Regions from separate parts of the Homo sapiens genome. Here all the other regions are linked to region 4. A link means that fine-mapping ties the variant in region 4 to the plasma level of a protein whose gene starts in the linked region. Region 4 holds a variant in brackets. A gene starts in each other region. All regions are shown on their forward strands.

Region 1 (6,527 bases), not on the chromosome of region 4:
CGCCCAAAGTCACCCAGCTGGAGAGAGACGGAGTCAGGATTTGAACCCAAAGAGTCCGGTTCCAGGCACTCACGCGTGAGGCTGCTGTTGCTGTGCTATTGGAAGAGCTGCTGCTTCCTATGCTGAGCCTCCACGCTAAGCCTCTGAGACGGGGCCCTTCTGAGTGTCGGGATCCAAGGTCCTGGGTTTCCTGCTTCACCTGGCTGTGACACCAGTGGCTGCCCGCCCCTGGTCACTGTGGGTGGCATGGAAGAAAGAGCTCACTGGCTTGGTGATGTCCTCCTGCCCCCAGCAGATATCCCTGACACGGGGCATCTCTGGAGGTCATGGCCGTGTGCGAGCAGAGCCCGAGGGGCTGCTGGGGGCTGGGGTTCTTCCGGTCCGCCAGCTTTCAGATGATGCTTCCAGGAGTCCTGGTGCCCAGAAGGGGCCTCAGGGCTGCTGGGGAGAAGAGGGGAAGCAGGAGCCCCCACCTCTGCTTTTGTCTCAGTTGTCTCTTGAGTGTGCCTGTGAGATGTCTGGGGCTAAAAAAGGACCTTGACCTTGTGCAACAGACCAGGAAACTCGGCCTGTCAGGGACAAGTGGCCTGAAGTGACCTGGCCAGCCAGTGGTCGTGCATGGACCTGGGACCAGCCAGGGAAGGCGGGGGAGGCTCTTCCCGTATATCCAGCCCCAGGGGGGTCTCAGGGACAGCTGGCTTCTATCCTGGGCCAGGAAGGAAGCTCGGGGACAGGGACGGCTCTTGGGGTTGCTGAGGCCCCCTCGCTCTTTCCCTGGGGCTGCCTTCTGAGTCCTGGTCCTCTTCCGGGGCTGCCAGCCACCTCCCAGCTGGCCACATGGTCCCTTGGTGGCCCCGTCCCAGTCAGGTGTGAGAACTCTGGCTGGGTCTGCCCAGGAGGCTCCTAGGATGTTCTGGGTCCTGGGCTGGCAACAGAGAAGAACCGCAGGATGCCAGGGAAGGTGGTATTGGTGGGCCACTCTTGAGGCTGTGGCCGGCCAGCCCTATCGGCTAGGTGAACCACACTACACACATACATTTGCCAGGCCTGCTAGGCCTCTGGGTGACAGAGAGGGGACCCACCTCGACAGCTCGGGCCACGTCCTTAAACTCCCGAGCCTGCTGTGGCCACTTTGCTGTGAGGACAGGCCCTGCTCCCACTGCGGCAGCCTAACATCCTCCCCAGGGAACCTCCAAAGTGGTCAGCCACGGCCCACCAGCCCCTCTGCCTCAAGCCTGCTTCTCTATCCCCGCCGTGTTTTCCCTGGAACCCCACCCTCCCGGGCATCCCCCACACATATTCCTGCTGTCCTATTTCTAAGCTCCTCAGATATCTGGAAAACACTGGCGGAGAAAATCCCCTTCTTTTTTTTCTCTCTCTTTTTTTCTTTTTGAGACGGAATCTCACTCTTTCACCCAGACTGGAGGGCAGCGGCGAGATCTCGGCTCACTGCAACCTCCACCTCCCAGGTTCAAGCAATTCTCCTGCCTCAGCCTTCCGAGTAGCTGGGATTACAGGTGCCCGCCACCACGCCCAGCTAATTTTTGTATTTTTAGTAGAGACAGGATTTTACCATGTTGGCCATGCTGGTCTCAAACTCCTGACCTCGTGTGATCCCCCTGCTTCAGCCTCTCAAACTGCTGGGATTATAGGCATGAGCCACTGCGCCTGGCCAACAATCCCCTTCTAAAGGCAGGTGGTGTCTCCAGCACCAGGGCCATACGGCTGCAACACCCCTACAAGTGCCGGTAGGTGTGGGCTGAGACCATCCTACATGGGGAAGGCCCTGAGAGGCCGGGAATTTGCAGGCCGAAGAGGGATCCTGGAGAGTGGGGGACTCACCTCAACAGCACTCTCTAAGGGGTAAGGAGCCCCTGGCATCAGGAGCTACCAGAGCACCTGCTACGTGCCAGTCATGGCTCCCTGTGGGCCTCAAGTCTGCAGGCTCTGGGGTAAGGGGTGGGGGTGGTGTGGAAGTGTGGCTGGCCAGGGGAGCTGGGGCCTGGAGGGTCACACACCTGCAGGAGGTCACAGAGCCAGGGGATGGCTGGCCCCACAGACCCGTCTCCCAGGTGGCCAGCCTGCAGCCTGTGCCGTCCTGCTGAGCCAAGAGAAGACACTGGGGGTGTTTGTGTTGGTCGGCTGTGGGGTCCCTCCCAAGGGAAACCGTTAGTCACCCTGGCGCTGGCTGGATGTGAGGCCACAAACGCCAGGAGAGCTCGGGGACTGTGCCAAGGGGTGCGAGGCCTGGCGGTCACCAGAAGAGAGAGGAAGGGGATGGCAGAGGCACCCAGAGCGAGTGTAATCCGGTCATGTGAGAGGGACTGGGTGTGTGTGTGCCTGTGTGTGTGTGTGTGTGTGTGTGTGTGTGTGTGCTGGGTGACAGGTGCCACCATGTCTGTGATTCAGCACAGCGACCCCAGGGGGCAGTGTGGGCCTGGGTTAGGGTTAGGGTTAGTCCTGGTTCCACACCGCAGGTGGCCCTGTGACTAGGAGCAGCCACCTTGCATCCCAGTTGCCCCAGCAGGAGAATGAGATGAATAAGACTTGCCTGCCCGAGGGTCCCGGGGAGAGAAACTTAAACAACCCGGCAGAGGAGAGAACCCGACACTCAGGAGCGCTGGCATCCCAGCCTTGCCTACTGGAGAGGTGACTTGGTCCCCGAACCTCAGTTCTTCCACCTGTGAAATGCAGATCATAAAGGTGGATCTGGCCTCACAGCTCTGGGCCCGTAGGACAAGCTGGACAGAGGGCAGACGGTATTATCGCTTTCACTACTATTACTGGTGGCTTTCCTTCCCAGCCTTTCTGGTGGGTGGTCAGACACAGGGCAGAACTTTCTCATGAAGGCAGCTGAAGGAACTCACAAGTTTCTTCCAGCAGGGAGGACAGAGGGAAGGAGAAGTGTCTTCCCGGCACTGCTGTGGGCCCAGGACATCTGCTGCATGGAGGCAGGGGCATGGATGAAAAGACACAGATGACCTGATGGAATGGTGCCCCAGCTTCCTCCTCCTCCCCTTTTTGGAGGTGCCTCTGTTTGCCGAGGATGGGCTCTGGGGAAGCTGGTGTGCAGAGGCTAGGTGCCCAGCCTTGCTTTAGGAAAGCCTCACAAAGTCTGGGGCCCGCCGGGAGTTTCCCAGGGGGGCTCTGCTGCTCCACCCACTCTCGCTCCCCTCTGTGCCCTGACTCAGCAGGAACAGAGGCTTGAGCTCCAGGCCTGGCCTGCCAGGGGCTGCCAAGTTGGTGCTGGACATCTGCAGAATCCCTGAGCCTCTCTGCCCTGGCCCTGGCTGCTCTAGCCATCTGGTCAGCAGGCCACGGGCACATCTGTCTCCTCCCTGGAGCCCTTGGTTCATTCTCGCTGGGTCTCCCTGCGTCCCTCCACCTGCTTAGGCCCCTGCATCTCGGGAGCTTTCTGAGGCTCGTGACCTGGGGCACGGTCGTCCCGGAAGTTCAGCCTTTCCCTCCGTACAACGGAGCCATCAGACGGGACACCTCATACATCCCAGACCCCATTCTCAGGAGCCCCAGGGACAGGGCCCGCTCTGGAGGCAGAAGCCGGACAGGCGGGGCTGGGGCTTTGCCACCGCCAGCCTCCCCGGTAACCTCAGGCCAGCGGCTGCTCCGTCTGGACACCCGACATGTGGCCCCCAGTTCTGGACCCGGGAAGAAGGCCTCCCTGCTCGCCGCTCCTGGGCCGCCGCCGCCGGCAGCAGCCAACAGGCAGCTGGGCCGGCCTGGCCGGGCTCCAGAGGCGCAGAGCGGGTTAAAGTGTGCGCCAGGCCGGCCGGCGCGGGCGGGGGAGCGGCCTGGTGGGAAGTGTGAGTGTTCCTCCCCGTCTGCCTGACAGCTATAAAGGCGGCCGCCGGCGCAGAGCCGCCACTGGGCTGCGCCCCTCCCGGGAACCCCCTCTCTTGGATGCTCTTTGAAGTGGGAGAGGGAGGCGGCGCGGGGGAGGAGGGGAAGGGGAGAGGGAGGCCGGGCCGCAGCCTCTGCACTCACGCCGCCCCCGCACGCACAGCGCACCTGGCGCCGTCTGCCCTCCGCAGCGCTCGCCCCTTTCTCTGGGAGGACAACCTGCTGACCCGAAGCCAGGTAGGCCACCTCGTCCCCGTCCCCCTCACGTTGCAGCGTCCACCAGGCCAGCCCACTGCTCAGAGTGGGGCTGGGGGTAGGAGCACCCCGCGCCCTCTGGAGCCGTTACATAACGTGGGGAGGCTTGTGGGGAGGGGTCGGGCCGCAGAGCACGGGGCAGGGTGGCCTCCCAGCACCTAGCCTTGTGCGCCCGGAGCTCTGTGTGCACGGCAGACCTCTCTGCTGCCGCCAGCCGCTGCTTTTGGACCCCAGGGAGGGATGGATCCCCGTGAGCGAGGCCTGGCCAGAAGCCAGTGGTGTCTGGAAGCCTTAATGAAAAAAGCAAGTGTGAGGCCGGCTGGCACCTGTCTTCAGCCGGCAGGCAGAGGCTGGGGCACCCGTTAGCCAATGGCACAGTGGAGGGGGCTCCTGTGGGTGTGAGGCTGAGAGTGCAGATGGAGGTCTGCAGGGGAGGGAGGTGGGGGGCAGGCGGCGGGGGCAGGGGAGGTCAGACTCAGGCTCCCCACTCCAGGGTGCACTGCTGCGTCGTCCGGGCTGCAGTGGTGTCCTTGGAGTGGCCCCTGAAAATCTGCAGGTGCCGGGCCTGCAAGGAAACTCTTCAAGTTGGATGGAGGCTGCTGAGGAGGGAGGGGCAGAGCCCGAGTTGGCCTCTGGCCTGGCAGGGGTGAGGGGTGACCTCCATGCCTTCTTCCCCTGGAATTGGCCAGGCGTGGGGGTCGAGTCCCTGAGTTTGCTAGTGTGCTACCTTGCTGTGTGGCTTTGAGCAGGTTGGCTCCCCTCTCTGGGCTCCAGGTTATGAGTGCAGGCTGCGTGGTTTCTGAAATCCCTTCTCTAACTCGCTGGCAAGTGACCCTCAGCACCTGAGCAAGGCCTGGACAGAGGTCATGGTGGATCTCTGGTCTTCCCTTCCACAGGGCAGGGTCGACGCTGAGGAGGGGGTGGGGAGAGCTGAGGGCCTGGAGGCTGGACAGTCCCTTCCAATGGGCTTGCTTTGACCCCTGGCAGGTGTTTTGAGCCAAGGGTGCTGGCTGTTGGGAGGAAGTCAGCCTTGTGGCCCTGGACTGCTGACATGCTGGCACAAACTGCACCTCCTCCTGCCCTGCCCCTCCCCCAATTCCATCTTCTCTCCGGGGATCGGGAGGCGGCATAGGTACCTGGGTTCTGCCTCACCTGAGTGCCGGCTGTTGCTGGATGCTGACTGTGGAGCTGCTGGTCTAGGGCGAGGCTGCACATTCCCCCGGGACCTGGCCAAGCCCATCCCCATGCACTGACCCTAGCAGCCAGTGGCAGAGGCCATTCTCCTGCGAGGCCAGCAAGAGCTGAGCCAGTTAAAATCCCAAGGTGCTCCTGCCAAGGCGCTGGACTGAGCCCAGGCCCATCCCTTCGAACCAGAGCCTTTCCCCCCGCCTGGGTCCCCAGCCCCCTCAGCCGAGGCTGGCTGTCTCCACAGCCCTTCTCTAGGGGGCTTGAGGACTTGGAGGCAAAGCATGGCATGCTTCCCTGCATGCCCTTGGATCAAGGGTGGCACAGGCTTAGCACGCACACCGCCGCTGGGTGTCTTGCCTGAAGCAGGCATTACTAATCATTCACCAAGCTCCTTCTTGCTAAGCCTAGACTGAGGCGGGGGGTTCATCCTTCCCAACAGGGTCTGCCAGACAACCACGACCAACTAGTCCCAGATAACCTTGAGGCCTGGGCACTGGCTGGGCCCCGAGGGCTCTTCCCAAAGCGTACCCTGGTCATCTGGAAGAGGATCGGAGCTGGCCTGGTGGTGACAGTGGCCTTGCTTCCTAGGATGGATGGCAGATGGCAATGTTCCTGCTGGGCCTGGTTCCTGCTGGTTCTGGCAGTTGTAGCTGGGGACACAGTGTCAACCGGGTCCACGGTGAGTGGGGTGTTGTGGTCTGAGGGCCCATGCCAGTCCCCTACCCAGGTGCTGTGATCACTCTCAGATGGACTGGCTTGGAGGGAGCCGTGTGGGCACGTGCCCCAGGTCCCAGAACCCATCTTGGCTCCTAGAAACTTCTGCCCAGAGCCAGTCAGATCAGCCTCTGAACTGGGGCCCTGGCTACTGTGGAGCCCCTGGCGACTTGGCAGGCGAGGGCTGAGGGGGCTGAGTGCTTCCCTTCCAAGTGAAGGCCCCAGCACGGCCAGGGTAGGCTGTGTCCTGCAGAACGCAGTTGGGCCCTGAGCTGCTCCGGGGAAAGTGAGGACAGTTAGATGCGGCCCCAGGAGCTTGCCAAGCCCCCAGGCCATCCTGGACCTTAAGGTCAAGGAGGACCCGTGGCCCACGGTTCCTTGGGAGTTCCCCCCAGCGCCACCCAGGAGATCTGAACCCAAGCTGCCGAGTGACCCTGCAAGGGGGCCCAGCCAGGGGGCTGTGTCTTCTGGTCCCGCTGACGGTGATACCCTCGGGCATGGGGTGGGGGCAG
Region 2 (6,612 bases), not on the chromosome of region 4:
TTAACTTTCATACCGCAGCCCCTATGCTCAGGACGAGGAGGGACATAGGCCAGCTGCCCCAAGTTCCCCAAGGGGACTGTGCCACCCTGGAGTGGGCTCTGTGATGGACAGAGTCACCGTCTCCCAGCAGCTCCCAATCCATCCCATCACAAGTCAGGTCTAGGCACTGCCATCAGACTGATAGTTGAATTTTTCCTGCCAAGAGGAGGTCCCTAAGAGCCTGAGCCACAGGCGAGGGACAGTGCTGTCCTGTGGCCAGGCCCCGTTGTCACTGGGGAGTGGCCTGGCCTGTTCACTCACCCAGCTCCAGTCTGCACCACCGTCGCTCCACTTGGGGTTGTCACTGCCTGAGGTTAGGACGTCAGCAGAAGCCAGCCTCATGTGGCAGAGGCGATGGGGAATTACAGCCTGCAAAGGCTGATGGCATCAGAGAGATTCAGGAAAGCAAAGGGCTTATTAAAAAGCTGAAATTGGTTCTAAACAAGGTCAGCCGTCGATGCGCCTTGGAGGGAAGCCAGGCGCTGAGCAGCAGGAATGGGGCTTATTTCCTGACACCGTGGCCGTGACACCCTGCACCTCCCCGGCCTACCCCACCCCCAACCCCACTCCCACCCCCATTCCCATCCCCACCCCCACCGCCACCTCTGGAGGGCAACGTGCACCCAGACACTGGAGCAGAGGCAGCAGGGGTGGGAGCAGGGAGGAAAGCCCCCCGCGGGGCACCACAGGGAGGCATGTGGCCAAGAGAGCACCTGGCAAGCAGGTGTCACCTCTGAGGAGGGTGAGGGCAGGAGGAGAGCTGACTGTTGCTTCCTTACCCTGGGGTCGGATTGCTCCCTTTTAAAATCCATTAATGCAAGGAAGGGCGCAGCCACGGGGCCATCCGATTGGATTCGCTCCCTCCCGCCCGGCCCCAGTCTCCGCAGATTTTCTCTGCGGTTGCATTTTTCATTTGAGCGTCCCTTCCTCTTGACTCCAGTGGAATTTTTCTGACCTTGGCTGACAAGGTGTGCAGCCCCCTCCAGCTCAGGGCACCCTCTTTGGGGTGCTTGCCCCAGGCACTGGCCCACCCTGTGAGCTCAGGCGCATTGTCTCGCCTCTCCGAGGCTGACTCTCCTGTGTCTGAGACAGGGATGATCGCACACCCAGCCACCCAAGGCTGGCCAGGATGGAGGCAGGGCAGGGGAAGCCCTGGTGCGGCCTGACTTGTGTCTCCTGTCCCTCCCTAGGACTTAGTTATCAGTATTTTGGAATCAGCTGAATCATTTCTGTCAAATGCTAGAGGAAAGCCAGTTTTGAGTTGGATAAAGAAAATGTCTTTGATTCCTGTTAAAAATAAACATGTGTGCATAACACTGCTGAGCACGAGACCGCACCTGCCGTCCCTCCTTAGAGCTCCCAGCAGCTGTTGGTCTTTGGCGTATCCGGGAGAGGAGCGAGGCCTGGAGGTGTGTTGAGCCGTCCAAGGGCTGGTAGCATCAGGGGCTCTTCACTGCCTCTCGCTCCACAGAACCGCTGGGTTGAAGGAAGCTGGAGGGATCAATTGTCCTTGTCATCCAACTTCCTGTGTCTGTAGATGGGGAGGAGGCGCTGGGTTGGAAAGCGCTTCTCTGAGGACGCCAGCTGCGCATTCAGGAGGGCGGAGCAGGATATGACCCCAGAGCTCTGACCCCGGAGGAGCAGGAGGGGTGCCTGGGGCCTCAATACCCCAGAGGGGAGAGAGGTGCCCCCCTTCCCACAACGCGGGCCCCAGCTGGTGCTCGTTTAGCCTGTTGTCTAGCTGGAGCCACCTGGGTGGCCACCAGGCTGCTGGGAGGGCTCACCCCTGAGCTGGGTGTGCTGTGGAGCCCGTGACCCTCACCTCTGCCTCTGCTGGCTTTTGTTATCCCGTGCTGGGAACACCAGTGCCTGCCCACCCCGGAGGCTCTTCGTATCACCGGCTCGCTGTGGCCGCTCCCCAGTCCCGAGAGTGAATGTCCGGGATGCAGCAGACACCTGCTTACAAGGCACAGGTGAGGAGGTTTTGGAACTAATCTGAGGCATGAAGGTGAGGTGCTCTCAGGCGACGGAGGTGGCATGTCCTGATGGGAAAGCCAGGCCTTCGGAGGCTGAGACCCTTCCCAAGGCTCACCAGAGAACTCCCAAGAGTGTCTTTCCCCTGGCCTGGGAGACAATTTCACACCAATGCCACACTCTATTGCACAGGTGATTATGCACTTGGACCTCACCTGCCTGGGCTGTGGGTGGGGGCGAACGGTGCCCCTCTGGGTGCAATCAGTGGGGAGGGGCTCATGGCCTGAGCTTGGCTTTGCAGGATGGCCTGGCCACTGTGGGGCAGAGAGCACTGCCTGCGAGGGCCAGGGGAAGGCTGGCACTTTCTCCAAATTTCACGTTCGTGCAAAGACACAGTCATTCCTTTCTACAGCGTAGAGCTCAGAGCTGAAGCAGCCTCCAGACCTGCTGTCATGGGTATTTAAGGACCTAAATGTTGCTGTCAGCCTATGACATGAATGTGCCCCTAAGGCTAGATTCTGGGTTTCTCCAGAGAGACGAGAAACAGGAGGGAAAAGGAAGGAAGGGAGGGAGGAGGCTGGGGAGGAGGGACAGCTTCTAGTCCAGCTGGAGAGATCTGTCAACCCAGCCTGGGGGGTGGAGCTGGAGGGATCAAGCAGAATGTCCTGAAGGCAGCTGCCCTCAGTCTACTTGTGGGAGAGGACAGGAGGGAGAGGTGCCGTGGTGAGACTGACCCTCGGGCCCACGGGTGGATGATGGCAAAGGTCCTGTGGCAGGTGTGGGAGAAGCAGGGCTGCGGCCAGCTGCCCTGAGAGGCTTCAAATTCAGGCCAGATCTGCTCTGGGCAAGAGGAAGCTGTGGGTTTGGGAGCTTCAGAGACAGGGGAGCAGGCCTGTCACTCACCCTCTTTTCCTTAAAGGCTGTCACCCCCAGCAGTGCACCCTGCAGCCTGCCTATCCCCTGTGCAGCTCCAGCTCCGTCTGTCCCCAGCAATGCACCCCACGCCCATGTCCCCCACTCCCTATGATGCTCTCGCGCCTTCTGGAGCAGCAGTGGTACCAGCTGGAGGCTGTGGAAAAATTGAGAGGAGACAAAAGTGGGAAGAGCAGGCCGTGGAGAGAGTGTCTAAACACAGGGACTATTTGGAGATTGTCTTATTTTTGGTTTGAAATGGGCCCACCTGCTAGTATTGTACAAACGGCTCTGCTCGCTAGGCCAGGCCTGCAGTGGCTACGGGCCTATCCTTCACTGGTCAGCCTGGAGCAGCTCCTCGGACCTCAGTCTGCTCATCCGTGGGTAGAGGCGACGCAGACCCCATCCCACTGGGGACTGGGCCAGACAGCCTGTGAGGCAGTCAGCTGGTGCCTGGCCAGAGGGTGTCTGAAAGGCCTCTTGGCTGCAGGGTGCATCTGCTTTTGGGACAGCTCTTCAGAGCCATCTCAGAAGGGACAGCATCCGCCTGTCTACTTCAACTCCCACTGATGACGTCCATGTGTCATTAGTGCCAATTAGAGGAGGGCAGCAGGCTGAGTGCTTGGCCTGGGGCGCAAGCTTGTGGGAGGGAAAATTGGATTCCCCGCTAGACAAATGTGATTACCCGTGCTGCCTGGACCCACCCCATTCAGGACCAGGGCATAAATGGCCAGGTGGGACCAGAGAGCTCACCCCAGCCATGCCCGCCCTCAGTCGCTGGGCCAGCCTGCCCGGCCCCAGCATGCGGGAGGCAGCCTTCATGTACAGCACAGCAGTGGCCATCTTCCTGGTCATCCTGGTGGCCGCACTGCAGGGCTCGGCTCCCCGTGAGAGCCCCCTCCCCTATCACATCCCCCTGGACCCGGAGGGGTCCCTGGAGCTCTCATGGAATGTCAGCTACACCCAGGAGGCCATCCATTTCCAGCTCCTGGTGCGGAGGCTCAAGGCTGGCGTCCTGTTTGGGATGTCCGACCGTGGCGAGCTTGAGAACGCAGATCTCGTGGTGCTCTGGACCGATGGGGACACTGCCTATTTTGCGGTGAGTCTCTCCTCCCTGCCAGCTCTCCAAACCCTTCCTGACCCGGCACCCCATCTGGCCGTCTTTCTGCACTCACCCTCCTTAACCCAGAAAGTTCTTCTGTCACCTGTCAGTGTTTGAGTTGACTCTGCTCTGAGCCAAGTCTGCACCCCGAGCTTGGGCATCATGGGGATCTCAGTTTGAGGACAAAATAGGAAAGACATGCTTTCCATGGTCCTTGACTGCCCGCCCCAAATCATGGGACCCAGTAATCCCAAGGAATGGAACTATACACAGAGGACGCACACACCACACACACTCGTGCCGCTCCACACCCCACACGCGCATGAGCACAGACCCCACGACCCTCGGCCCTGTAAACAATGCCTAGTACCACGTCCCCAGAGCACACATGCCCACTGATGTGGGCCAGGTGGTGGCGCGTGGCTGGGCACAGCATGAGGCCTGCACACCCATGGGATCCAGCCTGACCTACTGTGCTTGTACCCGTGGACCAACTGAGCAGGTGCAGACACCCTGCCCCTACCCATAGGTGTTGAACAAGCCCCACAGGGCTCAGCCAAAACTGTTAGGATGGGCTCTTGACTCCTTTCCGTCCAAATTTACCTCCACTCTTGTTTCACAGGGTGGAGAAAGGGGAAAAGTTTCCCTTCAAACTGGAGGGGACTTTAGGCCCTTCCACAAGCTGCAGGGGGTCCCCGAAGTGGGCGAGCCCACCGCCTACAATGGGTCCTGCTCCAGCCTTCCTTTCCACATGGGACTGGCCACCAGGGCTTCTTTGTGGATGAAACCCAACTCTCTCCACAGAAACACACAAAGGAGTGACAAAAAAGTTTTATTTCTGAAGTCAGGAGGTGCCTGCTTTATCTGGGAGTGCCGAGCTGGAGCGGGGGAGCTGTGTCTGTGCGGAGCGGCCGGCTCCAGCTCTGCATCTTGGTCTCACCATGGGCTGGTGGGGCGGAGAGTCCCTCTCTGCCTTTTTGGGTGTTGTGAATTCATGAGGGCAGATGGTGGCTGCTGTTTCTGGAGCTGAGCTTGCCCCCTCCAATTCCCAAGACTCGGCCAGGAGGCACTTGCCTGTGTCGCTAGTGAGGCTTAGGGCCACCCAGGTAGGGTGAGTGGAGCTGCCTGGGAAGGGCCCTGCTCTGACCCATAGGGCTGCACAGATTCCTGTGCACAAAGACACTCTGTGGCTCAGGTTCCAGCCAAGAAAGACCTGGGACAGCCCTGATTCTGAGCCGTCAGCCGTCTGGAGGAGCAGCTGAACCCCATCGCTGACAGTTTGGGGTTCTTCGCAAGCCTCTGCCATGAGGCACCCTGAGTGCAGGAGCATTTGCTCCTCTCTGGGGCAGCGTCCCCCCTGCCTGCATTTCCCGGCTGCTAGGGAAGCCAGAGGAAGCCAGGTGACTTTGCCTTTCCGTGCACTGGCAAGGTTAATTTGCACAACAAATTCCTACGAAAGCAAATGTCAGCCTTATTATTCCTCCCTAAGCAATATGTTCAACTAATATCTTCTTGATTTCCAGCTGAAATATCACAGGCGAACTTTCTGCCTCTGTTTAAAATGAGTCTCTCGGCAAACCAGCGGTGTCCCCAGCGGGGTTGCATTGTGTGGCTTTTTTCTCTAGGGAAAGTTTTGCAGTATCTTTTGCAGATTTCTTTTTTCTCAAGGAAATGAAGAAAAGATGTTTTACCCTGAATGTAAGATTAAAAAGAAACACAACCCAAAGTCCTTAAGGCCAAGGGCCCGAGGCTTTCTTGGGGTTTCCATGGGAAAGGCCAGGCAGGGCAGGGAAGCAGCTTCGTTTGGACAATTCTGGTGGGCTCTGGGTGGCTGGGGTGGTCTCTAGTTGCCTGGTTCCTGGCCCTAGGGTGTTTTAGGGTTGGGGCAATATTGGCCTGGGGTGTGAGAGTCAGGTGGAGGAGGTAGCTAGGGATATGGGCTTGGTGTGGGTCGGAATGTTAGGAATATGATTCTCACACACGTGTGAATGTTGGAGGGCAGGACAGGTGTAAACAACTCTGACCATCTGTTTGAGCCTTCAATCAATTAATAGATGCCAAATAGACAAATATGGAATCTAAGAAGGGCCCTTCTTGAGTACGAAGGGCAGCCTGCTTGTTGGGGAAGGCTCCTCGCTGTCTCTCAGTGGGTCTCCCTGGTGGTCTTCCATGTGACCTGGCCTCGGGCCACCGTGTCCCTGCCCCTTAGGGCCCAGTGCAAGGGGAGCGGCCGGAGACGGGGAGGGCAGAGGTCACTGATCCAGATCCCAGGAAGCATCCTCGGAGAATGCAGCAGGTCCAATGCCTCCCTGGGCCTCAGTTTACCTTCTCCAAGCAGGGCTGGGACTAAGGTGAGGGGAACAATGCCTAGGCTGCAGGGTTTAAAGTGGTGCTTCAGGCTGGGTGTGGTGGCTCATGCCTGTAATTCCAGCACTTTGGGAGGGCAAGGCAGGAGGACCGCTTGAGGCCAGGAGTTCAGGACCAGCCTAGGCAACATAGCGAGACCCTATCTCAAAAAAAAAAAAAAAAAAATCCAAAATTACATGTATTTATAAAGTAATAAAGCAGTGCTTGTTCTCAGGGTT
Region 3 (6,580 bases), not on the chromosome of region 4:
TTGGATGTTTAATTTAATATAGGTATTATGGTCCATCTGTGTCCTTGAACTCTACTTTAGCCAAACCACATACTTAAAAACCATAGAGAAACACAACTTGATGAAGCCAGGTAAGCTGTGATCTACATCACCACTGCAGCTCAAGAATGAATTTGGCTAATGGCCATAGCAAAGATAACAAATCAACAATTTCATTGGAATTCAATACACCCCAATGTTGCAATATAAATCAAAGCAGATCCATTCAGAACCTTCAGTAAATCATATGACATTTGAATTCCAAGCAACTGGAACTTTACAGCAGGGATCCAGGTTTAGTCAAAATTGTTATACAATGTTTATTTATATTCAAGTATAGGAGTTACCTGAAATTGAGTGATTATATTTTTTAAAATTGTAACCAGAACATCAGTTCATTAATTTGACAGTTGTCTTTCCATGCTGCAAATAATAACCAGCGTTCATCATTTAGCAGTCATGTACAGCGCTCCCTACATATTAGTATTTTTATTGAAAAATACATTAAACAGTTCAATATATTCAAATTAAGGCAAATAAATTTTCCAGTTCTAATTGTGCCATTCTCTAACCTCGGTCAACTAGACCTATATATGAAAAGCTAAAGGATCAGCATACTGAATTTATTATTCTGAAGCAACGATGTGTAGCAAAAAAAAATAAGCTTGCTTTTGCCTCCTTTCAAAATATTAATAAAGTGACACTGACCCCACTCCTGTACTTGTGTTGCTGTGGTGATGCCCACGGTGGAAGAAAAATTTGGTGATAATTATGCTTTCAATATTGGCATGGTTTCCTGAGATTCCCGCAAAGTGATGCTTTCAAGATGCTGCATATAATTCTTCCACCTCAGAGACACTTCAGGCTATTCTTCTAAGAGAACTTCAGGTGTATTTAGGTAATCTAAAACTCATAAAACTTGAGGCTCATTTTCTTTTCAATTTGCTTAGGAATATAGTGAGACCAAAGGCAGATGCAAAAGTTACTTAATATATGTCCTGGGGCCGTTACATCTGACTAAGAGGTTACCTGACCTACCATAATCAGGTGAAGAGGGTTGTATTCCAAATGTCATTGTACTGTCACTTAAGAAACTGCCTGGGAGATGAAAAATAGAAGGGGACAAAAATAATTGATATCACATCTGAGTAATAAGTCATCAGGATTCAAGGTAAAAAACATCCATTCTCCTCACATTGATTTGCAATGATGGTTGAATGCGGCATCCAGTTATTACTGGAAATGATTTTATTTACATTCTAGATCTTACTTGCCTCATTTCTAAACCTACAATTTTGAAACTCTGCTTCATTTTGTGCAAATCACAACTTCAGGTAGATCTGGGGTATGTCATCCTTGCCATTTTGTTCATATTAATAGACTAGTCCTCTTCACAAATGATGACATTTTTAAAAATCAGAACTACTTAGTGCAAATCCTGAGTAGCTGCTCCTCTGACCGTAACTCTTTAGAACTGGGCATCTTCTATGCAGACATTTTTGAATTTTCCAGCAGAGTCAGCATTAAACTCTCTACCACAGCACATACTTTACCATATATTTATACTAGCCAAACATAAATACATAAATAAAATCAACAGAACTTATTACAGAGGCTCAACTGCATTATACCATTCCAATAAAGTGCAATGTCAAACCTAATAAATTTGGCTTCCTCCTGAACACATTAGGTTGTAACTCCAAACCAAAATATGACTTCCAGCTGCAGCAAAATTCATAAGATAGAATGTGTCAGGATAGATGAAATACCTACTAATGCTGTCCTGAGCCTTATCTGTTAAATTTGTGGCTTTTGCCATGTATATGTGCTCCCAAGTCTAGTAAGCTTAAATGTGGTTCTTACTGATAAATCACTGGACTCAGTCAAAAAAGAGGGAGAGCCAGAGCCCTTAGAGAACAGGTATCATTAATAAGTGGCACTTGGTGTAATTGATGGGGGCACCATAAGTCTTTCTATAACTTTGTAAGACATGCAGTTGTCTTTTCCTTCTATTTCTGTACTTCCCCTCTTGATCTACTGCCTCTTTTCTCCTTTCTATCCCATTTTCCTTCCTTTCCTGCCCATTCCAGCGTGGCAGTGTTATTCAAACTGTAAGAGGCAATCTACAGTCACTCCTGAGTTCAGTTTAGTGGGCCACAGCCAAGCATTTAAAAAATCGACTACAATAGAATAATATTTCATTATATATTGTTATATTACTTATTACATTTATATAATTACACGTATGTATATATAGTATACATATGCACATTACACACACACACAAAAGCCAGTGACGCTGCTAATCCTTCTACATTGCATAGGGCAGCCCCCACAACAAATAATCATTTGACCAAATATATCAACAGTGTTGAGTTTGAGCCCTGATGTATACATATATGTAACTATTTGAAAACATCTGTAAAATGAAAGATGGAATTTTTTTGAAGTTATTTTAAATGTTTGACATTACATGGCTCCAACTAGAATCATAAATATTTTTTCTAATGCTAATTCTGTTATCCAACTTAAATTAAGATGTTGGTTTCTGACTAAAATCAACCATTTCACCAAGAATGGGAGTAAGGGTAAGTTACTTAAATTTTCTGAGTCTCACTTTCCTCTTTTGTAAAGTCTGGCTAATCATACTGGCCTGTTGAGGATTGTCATGAGAAACATAGAAAACAGATATAAAATATTTTGTATAACTTATTTATTTTAAGAAGTGAGTTAAAAATTTTTTTAGTTTAAGATTTATTTGCACATACATGTACCACCGTTCAATTTTCAAGAGTTCTGTATACATCCCATCCTTACTGACTCCACATAGCAGGTGCCAGTTTTACACATGGGGAACTGAAATTGGTGTAATGCTGTTTTTGTCCCATTGTGAGAAAGTAGCACGGGTGGAATTTGAACCCAGGTCATTGGGCTCCAAGGGCTTGGATATGTATTTGATTAAAAGAAAAACTGCCCTGGGTCTTGGCCCAGCACTATTTCAATCAGGCCAAAATGCCTGCCAAATAATCCAAATAATTGAATTGAATTGAAAAATATCCACCTTTTCAATAACATCAGGAACAAAAGTCTACAATATCCTGTAAACTATAATTACTAATATTAAGGGCATGTCCGCTTTGTTGCGTTTCTTTATTTAGGAATTTGTTCTGTGGCACTCTTCTTTGAAACCTTTGGTTGGAAAGAAACTATGTTCACTGAAAATGCAGCACATTTTGTCTTCTTTTATATGTTTTAAAGCTTTCTAGTTCTGGATAGGTGTGAAGAAGTTGAAAAAGCAACATTCTCAGGTAAATTACGTACTACACAGTAATAGGACATCCTTTACATCATCCTGGAAACATATGCGCTTTTTATCTCACTCATCGCAGGTGAAATTTCTGGTTTTCTTCTAACCTTAGAATGAAATTATAAAAACCCAGGCAAGATTTAGTTTTATTTCTCTGTTTTTCCACTAGTTTTCCAATCGGGATCTCTATGTTGTTTAGTAACACGAACTTCACAATAGAAAGTAGCTTACAGTAAACCAAACCCCCACCACATGCAATTTACCTATATAACAAACTTGCACACGTACACCTGAACCTAAAATAAAAGTTTTTCAAAAAGAAAACAGCACATGGATATAAAGATACATTTACAGTGCTAGTATAAAGAAGAATAATGTGATTTTTATTAATGAACAGAAGTACATTAATATGGTGTCTCTAGTATTCAATTCTATTTGGAAATTTTCCTCTAACACAGAAGCTTTTAGAAAATTCAGCATAAAGCAGCTTTCAAATAAATTGGCATATTTAAATTTTTCACAGACTTCAAACTCTCCTCCATTATAACTGTCTATGCAAAACCCTCTCAGAAAGTTTTATATTGCTCATCAATTTTCGTGTCTGTGCATTCAAAGCACAGCTATCCACCTACTTGAAAATTTTATGCTGACAAAAAGAAAAGTCTGCTCTTTTTAATTTTGTCTTACTATCAGTGTGGTCCCATGTGGAAAGGCAGGCTGCTAAATGCTTTTCGAAGGCTGGTGAACAGGTTAGACTTGCTTACAAGGCTAATTAAAATTGATGCATGCCATCTATTACATGTTACTACTGGATCTAAATAAAGTATCACTTTTCATCATTAATGCCATGTTCCTTCTCTACTCTGTATAGAAGTTTTTGCTTATTTTGTATGTTCCCTTTGGCTACAGACACATCACCCTTCTTAGTAAACTGTCTGAGTTTTTCAGCATGACTGTCTCATTATTTCTGTATTGGAATGGCCTCTTAGCTCTGTGTTTTGCAGTTGTTTATAACATCTACTAAAAGCGACATGAAAAGATGACACAGTCAGAAATACGGTAAAGACAGAAGTAACAGTATTAACTGACCTCATTTAGTTAATAATATGATGTGCTCAGTGCACTGCTTTTAGTCTGTAGCAAACAGCACATTGGATGTTTACACTAATACAGATATTGTAAAAAGAAGAGCAATGCTTCTGGATATATAACCGTACATACACTGCCCACGTGCTTATGTGAGAACTATGTTATTCCGAAGTTGCTTATCTGAATGGTAGGAAGATTTCAAAAAGGCTTTCTCAAGAATGAAATAAAAGGAACAGTAATGACCCTTACAACTCCGAAGATACGATTATAATTCTTCCGACTATTATTAAAGCAAACTCTGTACATCTTCATAATATAAGATTGCCAGTAGTTTTCTTTTTAAAAAGCCCAGCATAATCTCCTTAGAAAACCATTATGAAAGAAAGCCAAGAAGAGAGGACAGGAGAAGCACAAAAGATTCCCACGGGAAGGACAAGAAAAAGGTGGTTGTCAGTGCTGTGAGAACGAGTTGAAAGGCATGGGAAATATGGAAACAGACAAATTCCAATGCAGATCCACTAGCTGGAGAGGTAATTTTGCGTCTAATTTTGCACCTCTCTCCTCGCCTCCCCGTCTGCTCTCCACCATCACGCTTTTCGACAGTAAGAAGGATTTGGGGTTTTGCAGACTCTAGCGGGCATGAAAAGGATAGGGGGTGGCAACGACTTGAATTAATGACGTTCTCCTACAGGATGGAGGGGAAAATGACTTAGTGTCATCAAATGAACTCCCTACTCCTGGCATAAATTTATCAAACTGCAACTTTATCTCGAATACTCTGGAAGAGTAGAGGAGAGGCCCTAGAGAAAGCAAGTCTTGAGGGGAAACGCAATGCTCTTGGCAAAAACCGCACCTCCCTCTTGAACTACACTGACTCTTTTCACAGAGCGCCTTCCTTTAATAGAATCACAACCACCTGGACTACTAATAAGAGGAAGAAGAAAGGAGAAAAGGGAAGGGAGGATGGCAAAAATCACGCTCTAGAAGATCCAGGCAACGTCGTCGTGAAGAATAAAGGGAATCAAAATGGGCACTGGAACGCTGCTAAGGGCTTGCTTTGTTAACACACTTGCACAACTCAAGTTCAGCTCTATCTTATGTTGAAAGTCCTTGTTTACGATCCTCGTAGGAGGTTCTTAAATATCTGCCTGCGAACTCCCAAAGACTGGGCGCTTACTAGTTAGGGGAGGCAGCTGTCCCGGAGGGTGTCCAGCTCGGATGGCTGACTGCTCTTTCACTTGTCGTTAACTTCCACCCAGTAGTCTTAGTCTCCCCTTGGACATGGTACCGACCGTGTGCCATTCTTATTTCACTTGACCGAGCCCGAGCTGCAGCCCAGGGTGGAAGCCGCAAGGGCTGGGCAGAGTTCCAGGCAAGAGGGACCGAGAGGCGTGAGCAGTGCTCCGCAGCGCTTGTCAGAGAAATGGAGCAGCGGCTCCTTTGTGGGCTCTTACATCCCCGTCCTGGGTGCACAGCCCGGATATTTGATCTGTGGGGTGATTGATAAGTGAGGGAGAGGGGGGACGCGATCCCTCCCTCCCTCCTCCCTCCCTCCTCCCTCCTCACTCCCTCCTCCCTCCTCCCTCCCTCCTCCCTCCTCCCTCCCTTCTTCCCCTCTCCTCCCTCCCGCTTTACTTCCCTCCTCCCTCTCGCCTCCCTCCCTCCTTCCTGCAAGAAGCGTTGCCCGTTGGCTAGCTGCTCGGTGGGGATCTGCCTGCCCTGGGGGCGCCGCCCGCGCTCCCCGCGGTGCTCTCGCTCCTGGGCTGCGCCAGTCCGAGGCGGTGCCGGCTCCTTTGCCTCCCCGAGTCGCAGATGCTGCGGGCGCCTCCGGGAAAAGATCTGGGCGGCGCGCTCGCTCGGTAAGTTCTGAGCACTCAGGGACGCGGTGGCGACGCGGCCAGTGAGCCGGCTTTCCTCAGTCCGTTGCCTTTCCCGGCCACCTCTCCTTGCGAGGGGCACCAGCGTGGGGAGGCTGGGCGCCATCCGCGGAGGGCAGCTCGCTGGCGGCCGCCCTCTACCCTCAATCCCCACTGGAGATTCCTCACCCCGGGACCGTCCGCGCGGGCGTGGTCGGGCTCCGCGCCTCGCGCAGCGGGGTGGCACAGGCGGCCAGGGAGGGCCCACGCACCCGGCGCGAGCTAGAAGCCTCCGGTCGGCCTGCAGTGC
Region 4 (6,612 bases):
AGATCTGGAGGTTGGAAGGTTGGAAGGAGTTTTGAAATGGGAGGGAATTCAGCCATTGCTTTCACTCCTCTTCCCGCCTGAGTCCTCAACAAAAGGGACATTTCCCCTTCTTTTAAAGACTTCCTGATAAAAGGAGTCTTCATGGACACCCCCATAAGCATAAGGCAGCACAAGGGAGGGAGCTCCGGTGGTGGCGGAGTTGGGACACTCAGGCACATGGTTGCAGAGGCGCAAAGGTGTGACCGTTCTAGGTGTATCTTCCACAGGGCCCTCGTGGAAGGGACCAACTGCATCCCCTAAAACTGCCAGGGCAGCTTCCCATGATGCTGGGCTGAGTCCAGATTTCTAGATTTGGCTGGTGCAAGCTCCTGGTTTGCTAGAAAATTGCTGATGAAATAGGAGGGTTGTCAGGCCATGGGACAAATCTGCCGCTGTCCTCAGGGGTCACCCTGCCTGGCTTTGTGTGCTGACAGTCATGACCCTTTGGACGTCTGCATGTTTGTCTCTGGGTGAGTGGCTGTGTTGGCATTTAGTTTTCATTTGCTATATGATGAGCAAAGAACCACAAAGAAGTCCTAAACACACCTGGTGCTAAAAAGTGATTACCCTTGCCCTTGTTTTAGGACTTACAGCTACTTTTTCTTTCTGTAGCTTCCAAATATTTTATTTTTTATAATTAAGAAAGTAAATTTATATTAAATTTCTTTTCTGAGACAGAGTCTCGCTCTGTCACCCAGGCTGGAGTGCTATGGTGCAATCTCAGTTCACTGCAACCTCCGCCTCCAGGACTCAAGCCATCCTCCCACCTCAGCCTCATGAGTAGCTGGGACCCAGCTCTGCCTGGCTAAATTTTGTATTTTTTGTGGAGATGAGGTTTTTTATGTTGCGCAGGCTGTTCTTGAACTCCTGGGCTCAAGTGATCCACGTGTCTTGGCCTCCCAAAATGCTGTGGGATTACAGTTTTGAACCACTGTGCCCAGCCTATGTTAAAATTAATTTTTCCATTTAAAATGTCGTTAATTAAAATTCATAAAATTTATATCAAAATCATAGCCTAGAATCTCTGCATATGTAAGAATCACTTTTTAAAAAGATGATTTAGGATGTTGATAGCATCTTATGAATTGTTTAGAGCTGCACTGTCTGACATGGTAGCCATTAACCACGTGTGGTCATCGAGTGCTTGACACGTGGCCAGTAGAAATTAAGATGCGCTGTGTATGTAAAATACACACCCAATTTCAAAAACTCAGTACAAGTGAAAATGTAAGCTATTTTCGTAATTTTTGTATAATGATTACATGTGAAATGATAATAGCTTATATAATATTAGGTTAAAGAAAGCATTAGAATTAATTTCATCTGTCTCTTTTCACCTCTTAATGTGGTTACTAAAAAATTTTAAATTACATATGTGAGTGTTGTATAAAGAAGAGAAGGTTAGCATTCCCCTTGACAAGGATGGAAGAGGCCTGTACAACACTCATATAACTTCGGCATTGCCACCTTCTTTGTAGCATCTAACCATGGTTTTGAGGATGGAAAATGATTGTGTAATTGGTACGAGGTTTCCTTTGTGATGATTAAAATGTTCTGGAACTAGATAGTGGTGTCAGTTACACAATATTGTGAATGCACTACATGCCACTAATAGTAAATGTTATGTATCTTTTACTGCAATAAAAAATTATGTGTGTCTCACATTATATTTCTATTGTGCAATGGGTGTTTAAAGAGGTAGAGGGTGTGGCTTTGCTTACAATAGTGTCTCTAGAATGGGGAAGAAATTGAAAGATACAATGATGGGATGAAGACTGCAGGAAGGGGTTGGAATTCTTTTCTCTCTCCTTTTGGTAAAAGTATGAGCATATATTTAAGTTTCCTGCCTTCTTTGCAGTCTGTCCCTGGGGGCCCCGACCTCTTGCAGCTCCTGACTCTTGACAATGCCTTCTTGTTGATCTCATCTCACTTTCCTCCACACTTGGCCGGCTGCCCACCGCTGTGTTTCTCTCTGAGATAATCCTGTCCCTATGATTCCTCTGGTTTACGTGGTGTTAAGGTGTTAGGGATCTTGACAGTTAAAAGTAACACAGAACACCCAGATCAGGCTCCACAAGCCTCCCCAGCCTCAGGCATTGCTGATGAAGAAAAAGTAAAGTCTTCTGTGCATCTCTGGAATCAGCTTCTAAAGAGTGACCCCTGGGAGGCAAGCCTGATGTGTGGTGCTCAAAGTCGGGACAGTGGTTACACTGGGTGGGAAGGAGGTGGGCGGTGATGGGGCCAGGTGCAGACAAGAGATTCTGGCCATGGGAAATACTCTGTTATTGATCTGGTGCTGATGACCCAAGTCTGTCCACTTTGTGAAAATGTATTGAGCTTGCGACTTGTGTACTTGTCTGAATGTGCATTACACATTAGTAGGAAGTTAAAAAACAGAACACATCACCCTGTAAGGCACATATGTTTCTGAGTGAAAAGCTAGCAGCCTGTGGTGAGCGAATGTGGTAGGGTGGGGACATGTTCTATGAGAATGGCCATCAAGGGTCCCCTTCCTGTGGGGACCTGGATTGACGATGCCTGTCAGAGTCCTGGAGGGGTGGGTTCTGCAGGTCCGTCCCACAATCCAGTCCCCAGATTAGAGATTTGTAAGTGGGTGACCCGCCTTGGAAAATTCCCCTCAGCACCTCTTATGTCTCTTGGCTCTCCATGTGGGGCACCCATACACATACAGAGCAGAACAGACCTGATTTTACATTTATCTTTTACTTTTTTTTAGAGACAGGGTCCTGCTCTGTCACCCACGCTGCTGCAGTGCAGTGGTGTGATCACAGCTCACTGTAGCCTCGATCTCCTGGGCTCAAGCAATCCTCCCGCCTCAGCCTCCCAAGTAGCACATGCCTGGCTAATTTTTAAAAATTTTTTTGTAGAGATGGAGTCTCCCTGTGTTGGCCAGGCTGGTCTCAAACTTGTGGCCTCAAACGATTCTCCCATCTCAGCCTCCCAAAGTGCTGGGATTACAGGCATGAGCCACTGTGCCCTGCCTTTTTAAAAAAATGTAAATTCTCAGTCCACAGTGTTGAGGATGTGAGAGTGAAGGGCTGCTCATCAAGAGGCTTGCTTAGTTGTTGAGTGTAGGTAAGACACTTAAAGAGAGTCACATTCTTGGGAGAAACTAAGATTCTTCCCTTGCTGTAAGAGGACACCATAAGAAGCCAAGGGTTGGCTCTGAACAGAGGGTCAAGCCAACCAGGCCCTGCTGTTATCACCTACGGAAATCCTGTGTGGCAGTAAATACAGTCCTCAGCAAAGCCTGGAGAAGAGATTACAGGGGGCACAGAGGGGCTGGGGATGCTAATGTGGAGGTTATTGGCCAGATAGTGGCCAGGAAACCAGAGACTAGGGGGGGTTCAGTTGGAGGAGCATAGGCGGAAATGGGAGAGAA[A/C]AATAAATAAATGAGATAAGCAACTTCATTTGCTTCCTCCCTTATTACTCTTTTGTTTTGTGTTTAGGACTCTGGTCTCCCCTGAGGTTGATCTCTTCTTCTGGGGACAACAGCCTGCAGGGTGATTTTGAAAAGCAGGCTCTGACTTCTACTTCCTTGTCCTGTACTCACCCCACCTGGTGTAATTCACCGTAATGCAGTGAACTTCCACATGGCTGCTGGGCATGCTTCCCAAAGCCAGCCCCTGGGCAGGGTTTCCCTTAATTTAGACCCCTGTCCCTACCTCTCCAAGTGCAAAGTGTACAAGGCTACACGCCCAGCTGCCCCCCACCCCCATACACACACTGGAGAGACCAAATGTTTGAGATCACTGTTGGGTAGCTGGGTCAAGAGAGCTTCATAACAATGTTGTTGGCATGTGGAGAGCTTTTCTTTTTCTTGGATCCCAACTGGAAATTATCAGCTTCGCCCCATGCTGACATGCGAATGTCCAGGCCTGCCTTTCTGCTGCAGGGCAATGCTCCAGGTTACAACATCGACACCAAGCAGTTTGTTGAGAAAACTTTGGACCTCATGAGCTGGGCAAGAGCGGCCTGGCAGGTGGTAGGAGAGCAGCCTGTCCATGCCTCAGCTGTGGCTCCACTGGCTCTGTGACTGTGCAGATTTTCTAACTTTTGAAGACCTCTGTTTGGATATCCATAAAATAGGTAAGATGGTGCTAATACCTACCTGTGATGTTGTGAAGATTTAATAGCATAATACTTAAAAGCACTTTGCATACATTAGCAAAGTGCCTAAATATTAGTTATTTGGCGGAGGCTATTAACCAGTGTGCTATGAGGTGCAAAGTAAGTTGTTACCAATAACTCAAAGAACTCCAGTTTGCAAATGTTTTACTTTTACTTAAGAGAATCTTTGCGGGAGAATTAAAACCAATTAATTCCCACCACTGGCCAAGAGCTCATGCTGTAATTATCCAAGACAGAATAGCTCAACAGAAAACCAAGTCATGCAATTCTGAGCACTTGTCCTTGGGATGCCACTTTGGGGCTCCCATATCTGAAATCATTTTGTTCTCAGTCCACCTGTGTGACATTTCTGTCCTGCTCAGCCACGGGTTCACAATAATCAAGGGAATGACCCAAGGGATTCACTTCTTCCAAGCAGCCGATGCCTTTGGAAGTTATGTTGACATTGCTTGTTTAAACCTAGGGCAAGAAATCCTTTCTCTGCCAGACCTGACTCTTCAGGCACACTCCTCAGTTTGGAGACGTGACTTGCCATGTAGTACTGAGAGGGAAAACAGGCCAGAAACAGCCTTGTTGAAAACTTCTTTTCTGCTTAGCTGCCCTCTGAACAGTCACCATAAAGATTGTGAGGTGCTGGAGCCAGGGATGACCTCATAAAGCCCTTTGCTAAATACTTAGTGAGCTGGTACTGTGGGCCAGGCACTGTGCTCATCATGAACAAAACCAAGGCAGACAACACTGTCATTAATGGAGCTTATCATGTAATACGGAAGCCTGGGATAAGCAACAAATTACACAAGTGACAAATGTGATGAGTGCTGTGAAGCAGAGTGCGGGGTGCCCAGGGAATCAGCAGAGCCCTGGAGGATAACAGCCTGAGCTCCAGGAAGGAAGGTTGTGGTGGTGCTTAGGGTCAGAGTGGGGACAAGCATTCCAAGCAAAGGGAAAAGCACATACACATGCTATATTAGTCAGGTTTCTCTAGAGGGACAGAACTAACAGGATAGATGTATAAATGAGGGGGAGCTTATTAAGTAGTATTGACTTGCATGAGCACAAGGTGAAGTCCCACAATAGGCTGTCTGCAAGCCGAAGAGCAGGGAAGCCAGTCCGAGTCCCCAAACCTCAAAAGTAGGGAAGCTGACAGTGCAGCCTTCTGAAGGCCCCAGAGCCCCCGGCAAACTGCTGGTGTAAATCCAAGAGTCCAAAAGCTGAAGAACTTGGAGTCTGTTGTTCGAGGGCAGGAAGTATCCAGCACGAGAGAATGATGAAGGCTGGAAGACTCAGCAAGTCTACTCCTTCCATGTTCCTCTGTGTGCTTTTATTCTGGCTGTGCTGGCAGCTGATTAGATGGTGCCCGCCCAGATTGAGGGTGGGTCTGCCTCTCCCAGTCCACTGACTCAAAAGTTAATATCTTTGGCAACACCCTCACAGACACATCCAGGAACAATAGTTTGCATCCTTCAATCTAATCAAGTTGACACCTAATATTAACCATCATACATCCCCTCCATGGGAAGGAGCATGATGCCTTATATAGTCTACTACCCTCAAACCAATCCTACTCCCTCATCCCCAACACCTTCTTCCCCTGGAACTCTAGATAGAGTTTCTTGACTAGACACATAAGCACAATTAGGCTATGCCTAATTATGAAGCCATCCCGGTTTATACATTTTCTTGTTATACTTGCCTATTTACAAGTTTTTCTTGTGAAAACTTGCCTATTCTTTTTGCTGCCTCCTCTCCACCCTAAAAGAGAAACTCTAAGGAAACACTCCCAGAGTTTATTATAGTTATTATGACTCAGATTTGAAGACTAGAATTTAATGGAGGTTTTCCTAACATTCCTTGGGGACTTGAAGGACTTTTTTTCCCACCAGCCACAGAAGTAAGATTATAAAACATTTATTTATTAAAAGAAAAGAAATCTTCTGGGCTCAAAGTTCTAGTTATTCTAAAAGCAGAGCACTTGTTCCATGTTTTCATATCGCCTCCCCACACCTACCTCTCCTCTCCCATTCTCTATTTCTTTATTTCTGTGCTGTAGTAATAAGCAAAACAGAGAAGCAATTGGTTTTAGTCTTGGATCTTGACCTTGCTGTGTGGCCTTGGCCAAGTCACTTCCCCTTTCTCAGCCTCAGTTTCTTCAAGTGTAAAATGAGAGATTGGATGGATCAGAAGATTCAGGCCTCCTTGAAAATCCCCATGGGTGAACCCCAACACACAGGCTATTCAGCCAGCAGCCCCAAGTCCTTTATGAAAAGCCAAGGTTGATTGAAACTCTCCCTTCTCAGGAGAGAAACTAGAGGCAAAGCTTCCTCATCAGCAGAGATAAACTTGGCAGGAGCCAATTCAGGTACCAGTAAAGGATATCTTCTTCTGCAGGCCAGCCTCCCTCTCTCCAGCTTGGTTCAATCC
Region 5 (5,000 bases), not on the chromosome of region 4:
TGGTCAATATGATTTTGTTTCATGTGCATTATCAGAAACTCTTCCCAAAGAGGGTCCTGGGATCTGATCAGCTAGACAAGTGGAGGAGAAACTGAAAACCCTCAGGGGACAGGGTCTCAGTTAAGTCTCCTGAATGATAAGCATTTCAGAGGTGGGAGGGAGACACCCCGGAAGGTGTCCAGAGGCTAACAATGCTATTTCTGTTTCTTGTAAGTTTTTGTCCAAGATGTGGGCCATTGGATTGCATCACTAGCATACAATGTCAGTGTAAGCAGTAGGCTTTACACTAAAGCATGTTGATGTGCTCAGAGCATTTTTGTGGTGCTGAGACCAGAGCAGATAGGGATACAGGGATGACAGTCTCCACCTTACGGAAGCCTCCTACCCAGGGGATGGAGTGAGACAGGCAGGCACACCAGTTATCCAAGGAAAGGAAATAAAGGGAAGGAGAAAGTCAGTGAAAGTGGTCAGGATGGCTGAGTGAGGGAGAAGGTGACTTGAAGGTCCCAGATAGAACAGTGGTAATAAGGTGAGAAAGAGGAGGTCTTCCAATTCCATTTCTGTGTTGGGCGGGTGTTTGAGAGTCCCACCTGGGTCTAGAGGCCTGCATGTCTAGCAGGACACTGGGTAGGAGTGGCTGAACGGGGACAACACTTAAAAAAGACAAAAATTACGGATTTTATTTCTACATGGTTGCACAAATCAATTTCACTTTCTACTTGTAAACTGCTTAAAAACCTTCATTATGAAAATGGAAGGACGAATTTATGTTCACCATCATAGTGCTTCTGGGCTGGTTCCACAGCATGGAGCCAGGCCCACCTGCTGTAGCTTTCAGAACTGCCATTTGGACACGTGGTTGAAGCAGCCTTCAGTTGGAGGATTCACAGTAATGGCATCACTGTGGGAGCTTAGAGGAACAACTGCTTGCAACCCCAGCTGCACTGGAATTACCTGGGAGCTTTAAAAACACTGCCTTTTGGGCCTCAGCCCCAGAGACTCTGACGTGACTGATCTGAACACAGGAGTGTCATGTCCTCCGGTGATTCTGAGTGGAGTCAAGGCTGTGAGACCTTCTGCTGTATAAAGGAATATTGAGAGCTGGGATTGTTAAGGAATTCTCTTAATGCTACGTCACTGGCCTCTGATGTAAGCCTGCTTTCTCGAGGAAAAGGAACCATAAAAGCTTCTGGAAACAGATTGTTTAAGAATGAGAAATTGTCATCATGCCAGGTTGCAAGACAGCTTTTAGGGCAGATGAGCTTCTGCTGCTCATTCCTTCATCTTTTCCTCCAGCCTGGATTTGTCCGGGGGCAGCTGAGGCTCAGGTTACCTCAATTCTTGAGTTTCTGAAGAGGCATATCCAGGGGTGGGTTACGAGAACAAGAGCCTGCCCAGTCTGAAAGGGATGCAGGAAGGGGCGGTGTGTACTAGAAGGAAGGAAGCTATCATCATTTATTAAAACTCTTCTTGGAGGATGGCCCATGAAGACCTCCAAACAAGCTGGAGGGGCCAGTCACTTGCTGAAGACTAGCGAAGTGGAGGGGGAAAGCCCGAGGGAGCTGCAGACTCGACCACTGCGCCCTCCCCTCCTCTCCCTGCAAGGAGCCCAAGGTGTGATCCTGCCAGGCGTTCGTTCGCTGCATGACCTTGGCCATCCTTCCATTCCCCTGGGTGTGAATTCTCATTGGCAAAGTGAGCTGGTGGGCATAAGTGGGTTTTAAGTTTAAAAATTTAAAAACCCTGTCTGCCCCCAAGTGTGGTATCAAGATTTTATAGTATGACACTTAAATTGCTTTTTTCATCCGGGCGCGTAACAGCAACAATGAAACCAGCAGATAACGCGTGAGTAGTATCAGCTCTGGGCCTGGCACTATTTTATATGTATTAGCTCATTTTTTTTAAAAAACTGTTTTCAACCACTCCATGAGATGAGTGCTCTTATGATCCCTTTTTCACAGAAGAGGAAACGGAGGTACAAAGAAATTAGTGCACAAAGCCAGTCGGAGAGAGCCCCTGGCCAGGCACCAAGCTCCAGAGGTCGCTCTGGCGAGCGTTTGCTTCGGGATCTGATGCCCTGGAGTCGCCAACTCAATTCGCGGGTCGCAGCCAGGCTCCATGGGGGTAGTAGAGCCAGGTCGTAGTGGCTAGGTGAGTTGTCTCAACTAACTCTAGTGGAGCCGCCGCAGCCCTGGAGGAGCCGGGCCGCGACTCGAGAGCGCCCGGCAGCTCTCCAATGCTTTGGAACCGGCGGGACCCCTGCGGGCTACCCGGGGCAGGGCGGTGTCCGCAGGGGTCTGTCCAGCCGCGCCTGCTCCTCCGGGTGGAGAGTTGGGACACCCGGCCAGCTCGCTCGCAGCCCGCGGACTGGCCCAGCCGAGCCGTCTCCGCCCGTTCCCCGCCCCCGCAGCGGCGGGGCTAGAGCCAGAGCCGCGCCCGGCAGTTCCCGGCCGCGAGGGCGGGCGCAGCTTGTGGCCGGCGGCCGGAGCCGACTCGGAGCGCGCGGCGCCGGCCGGGAGGAGCCGGAGAGCGGCCGGGCCGGGCGGTGGGGGCGCCGGCCTGCCCCGCGCGCCCCAGGGAGCGGCAGGAATGTGACAATCGCGCGCCCGCGCACCGAAGCACTCCTCGCTCGGCTCCTAGGGCTCTCGCCCCTCTGAGCTGAGCCGGGTTCCGCCCGGGGCTGGGATCCCATCACCCTCCACGGCCGTCCGTCCAGGTACGGGGAAGCTGGAGCATCCGGGGACTAGGTAGGGGTGAGACGGACCACAGCCTTGACACCTTCGAGTCCCCCGCTCTGCAGGACGCCGTGAGCGTCCTCCCTAAGTTGCACTTGGTTGTCAGAGTGTGTTGTGTAAGAAGGGGATGGCGGTGAGGTCTGCGTGTGTGTGTTTCTTGTGTGGAGCAAGAGTTAACGTTGTTCAGGTCGTTTGAAGGAACTTGCCAGTTGTTCTGGAGGGGGGTTCTAGGTAGGTGTGTGACTTCCCGTGTGAATGGCTTTCAGGTTTTCTATCCGGCTACGTTCTACAGGTTCAGGAGCGTCCCTCTTAGAGGTTAGGCTCAGGACCGTCAGTCTCCTTAACAAGGTAAGGGCTGAGGCCTTAACCACACTGGGGAGGGTAACTTGTTGCCCCTCCAGATAAAGGATGGTGCTAGGGAATGTAGCTACAAGCAAGTAGGCGCTGAGAAGACACTCATTATTTACAACAGTCATGCCCAGCACTTTACAGTTTATAAGCCCTTGACAGCAACTGGTCTTTTACCCTCCCTACAGTCTTGTGAGGAGGGTGCTGTCATCACCCCTGTTTTACAGCGGGGGAAGCAGAAGTTTAGGTGACCAACTTGTTGGAGGATGATGTCCTGAAGGAGGGTAAGACCTCTGCATGCAGCCCCCCTCTGTCTTCCCTCCCACTCGTCCTGCCTGCCAGGGCTTTCTCCTCTGCACTGCCGGGAGGAAGGAAGGCCGCTGGGAAGGCACGCAGATGCTGGCTCCTGCTGGGCTGTCTCTCCACTGCCTTATCTTTGGGGCAGGGTAGCTTCTCAGATGGCCACATTCCTGTGATTTAGCTTTACATTCTAGGAACTGAGGCAAGGGACACCATGAACTTGGGCTCTTGAGGTCATGGAGCAAGGGTCCATTCGTCACGGGAATGTGATGGATGTCTCAGTCGCTGCGGTTTGGTGCCAGGCTTCTGGACATTGAATGTATGAAACAGAACTCCATGACTATTGATGAGCTGAGGAAAGCCAGAGGTGGCATGGGGACGTTCACTGTCCTTTTTGCCATCCAGTTTACCAAGCGGCTATTGGCATTGTTTTCTTTCTCAATCCCTTCTAATTTATTGTGTGATATCTCATTTGATATTTCATTTAATATTCTGTATTCATATCCGATGTTAACGTTTATGCTAGACAGAAAGGTAGAGCCTTTGAGAATGGGGTTTGCTGGGGCAGGGGTGTGGAACTCTGATTTATTTTCAGTCTCTGGCTAGCTGCCAAGCTGCTGTGTGTGAAGCGTCTCCTGCACCCGTCCACTCTCATGTGGCCTCCATGCTGTTCAGGAAAGGATATTTGATCTGAATTCTCACATGACCTTGGCAGGCCCAGAGCAGCACCCCCATTTCTAATAGGCCCTGCTTGTATGTCATAATGTGACATCAAGTTTTTTTTTTATGGTTCTGAAACCTGTGACATCTTTTGAGTCAACCTCTCACCATTGTTGAAACACTGCTTAATAGTAGATTCACTAATTTATTAAAGATTTATTGACTATCTACTATGTGCCAGGCACTGTGGTGAGTGGTGGGGAGACAGCGGTGAATACGACAAGTGAAAACCTCTGTCCCCTTATGGACATGAGTCTTCTTGGTAAGACATAGGATGTCAGCAGTCTCTCTTCAAAAGGGGGGTCTTTGAAATCCGCCCCTTTGTACAAGGGTGTGGATGCACTGGCTACCTAGAGGACACCACTCAGCAGCCCCAATGGAGAGGACGAGGAGATGATGGGCACAGATGTAGCTCTGTGGTTCCCTAGAGAATCGCAGGGCTGCTATTCTCCAAGTTTGTGGTGTCCCTTGCCTCAGTTCCTAGGATGTGGAGCTCTAGGAGGTGGAGCTACACTCTGTGGCTTGGCCATGCACAGGGACCAGGGCAGATGGAAACCCTGTGGCTGGGATGCATCAGTGCGAGCTGAGTGTCCACCTGCAAGCTGGGACATTATGGAGAAGACATCTCAGTAATAAGAGAGGCAAAGCTGGACAATTGCGGTGAAACTACCATAGCATAGTGGGTGGAGAAGTACAGAGATCCTTATATTCTTATGCTACATAATGGATATACTAGGTTCTTGCCATTTTAAAAGAAGTTGTCAGGGGCACCTGTGGCTCACCTGCCATGGCACAGCTCCAGGATGCTACCCATCTGTTGCCGTGAATGGGTGCTTGGTTTGCATTTTCTTCTTCTTGAGGTTGTGAGGTGGGCTGGTGGCACAAGACAAGGATCTG

Which allele goes with the higher level. Positions count from the first base shown, and alleles are read on the strand shown. Strength reflects both the effect of a copy and how common the allele is.
As copies of A replace C in region 4, the plasma level of the protein whose gene starts at base 3,882 in region 1 goes down (moderate association).
In carriers of allele A in region 4, the plasma level of the protein whose gene starts at base 3,677 in region 2 tends to be lower than with C alone (weak association).
For the plasma level of the protein whose gene starts at base 6,076 in region 3, allele A in region 4 goes with a higher level than allele C (weak association).
In carriers of allele C in region 4, the plasma level of the protein whose gene starts at base 2,442 in region 5 tends to be lower than with A alone (weak association).

What was found. PIP is the posterior inclusion probability: the model's chance that the variant is causal. The UK Biobank Pharma Proteomics Project read protein levels with antibody pairs (Olink). The fine-mapping took linkage between variants from a reference panel, not from the people measured, so its PIPs are less certain.
Region 1: it holds the start of ADAMTSL2, and the variant in region 4 is fine-mapped to the plasma level of the ADAMTSL2 protein (UK Biobank, PIP above 0.99).
Region 2: DBH starts here. The variant in region 4 is fine-mapped to the plasma level of the DBH protein (UK Biobank, PIP 0.98).
Region 3: SLITRK2 starts here. The variant in region 4 is fine-mapped to the plasma level of the SLITRK2 protein (UK Biobank, PIP 0.98).
Region 5: IL1R1 starts here. The variant in region 4 is fine-mapped to the plasma level of the IL1R1 protein (UK Biobank, PIP above 0.99).

What each region holds. Positions count from the first base shown.
Region 1 is chr9:133,530,823-133,537,349 of GRCh38, forward strand. It overlaps ADAMTSL2 (ADAMTS like 2), which reads left to right and starts at 3,882. Exons shown (of 19, transcript NM_014694.4): 1 at 3,882-4,095; 2 at 5,741-5,980. The coding sequence starts at 5,891. RefSeq lists a silencer at 2,399-2,488 and enhancers at 2,747-3,288, 3,289-3,828, 3,829-4,370, 4,911-5,452, 5,993-6,527.
Region 2 is chr9:133,632,687-133,639,298 of GRCh38, forward strand. DBH (dopamine beta-hydroxylase) reads left to right here and starts at 3,677. Exons shown (of 12, transcript NM_000787.4): 1 at 3,677-4,024. The coding sequence starts at 3,686. RefSeq lists an enhancer at 4,942-5,677.
Region 3 is chrX:145,811,754-145,818,333 of GRCh38, forward strand. It overlaps SLITRK2 (SLIT and NTRK like family member 2), which reads left to right and starts at 6,076. Exons shown (of 5, transcript NM_032539.5): 1 at 6,076-6,273.
Region 4 is chr1:220,824,358-220,830,969 of GRCh38, forward strand. It overlaps LINC01352 (long intergenic non-protein coding RNA 1352), which reads left to right and starts at 4,898. Exons shown (of 4, transcript NR_110797.1): 1 at 4,898-5,085; 2 at 6,336-6,550. It also overlaps the pseudogene RNU6ATAC35P and the pseudogene LOC124900455. The variant A/C (reference allele first, on the strand shown) is at 3,443.
Region 5 is chr2:102,140,305-102,145,304 of GRCh38, forward strand. IL1R1 (interleukin 1 receptor type 1) reads left to right here and starts at 2,442. Exons shown (of 12, transcript NM_000877.4): 1 at 2,442-2,716. RefSeq lists enhancers at 3,305-3,599, 3,365-3,659.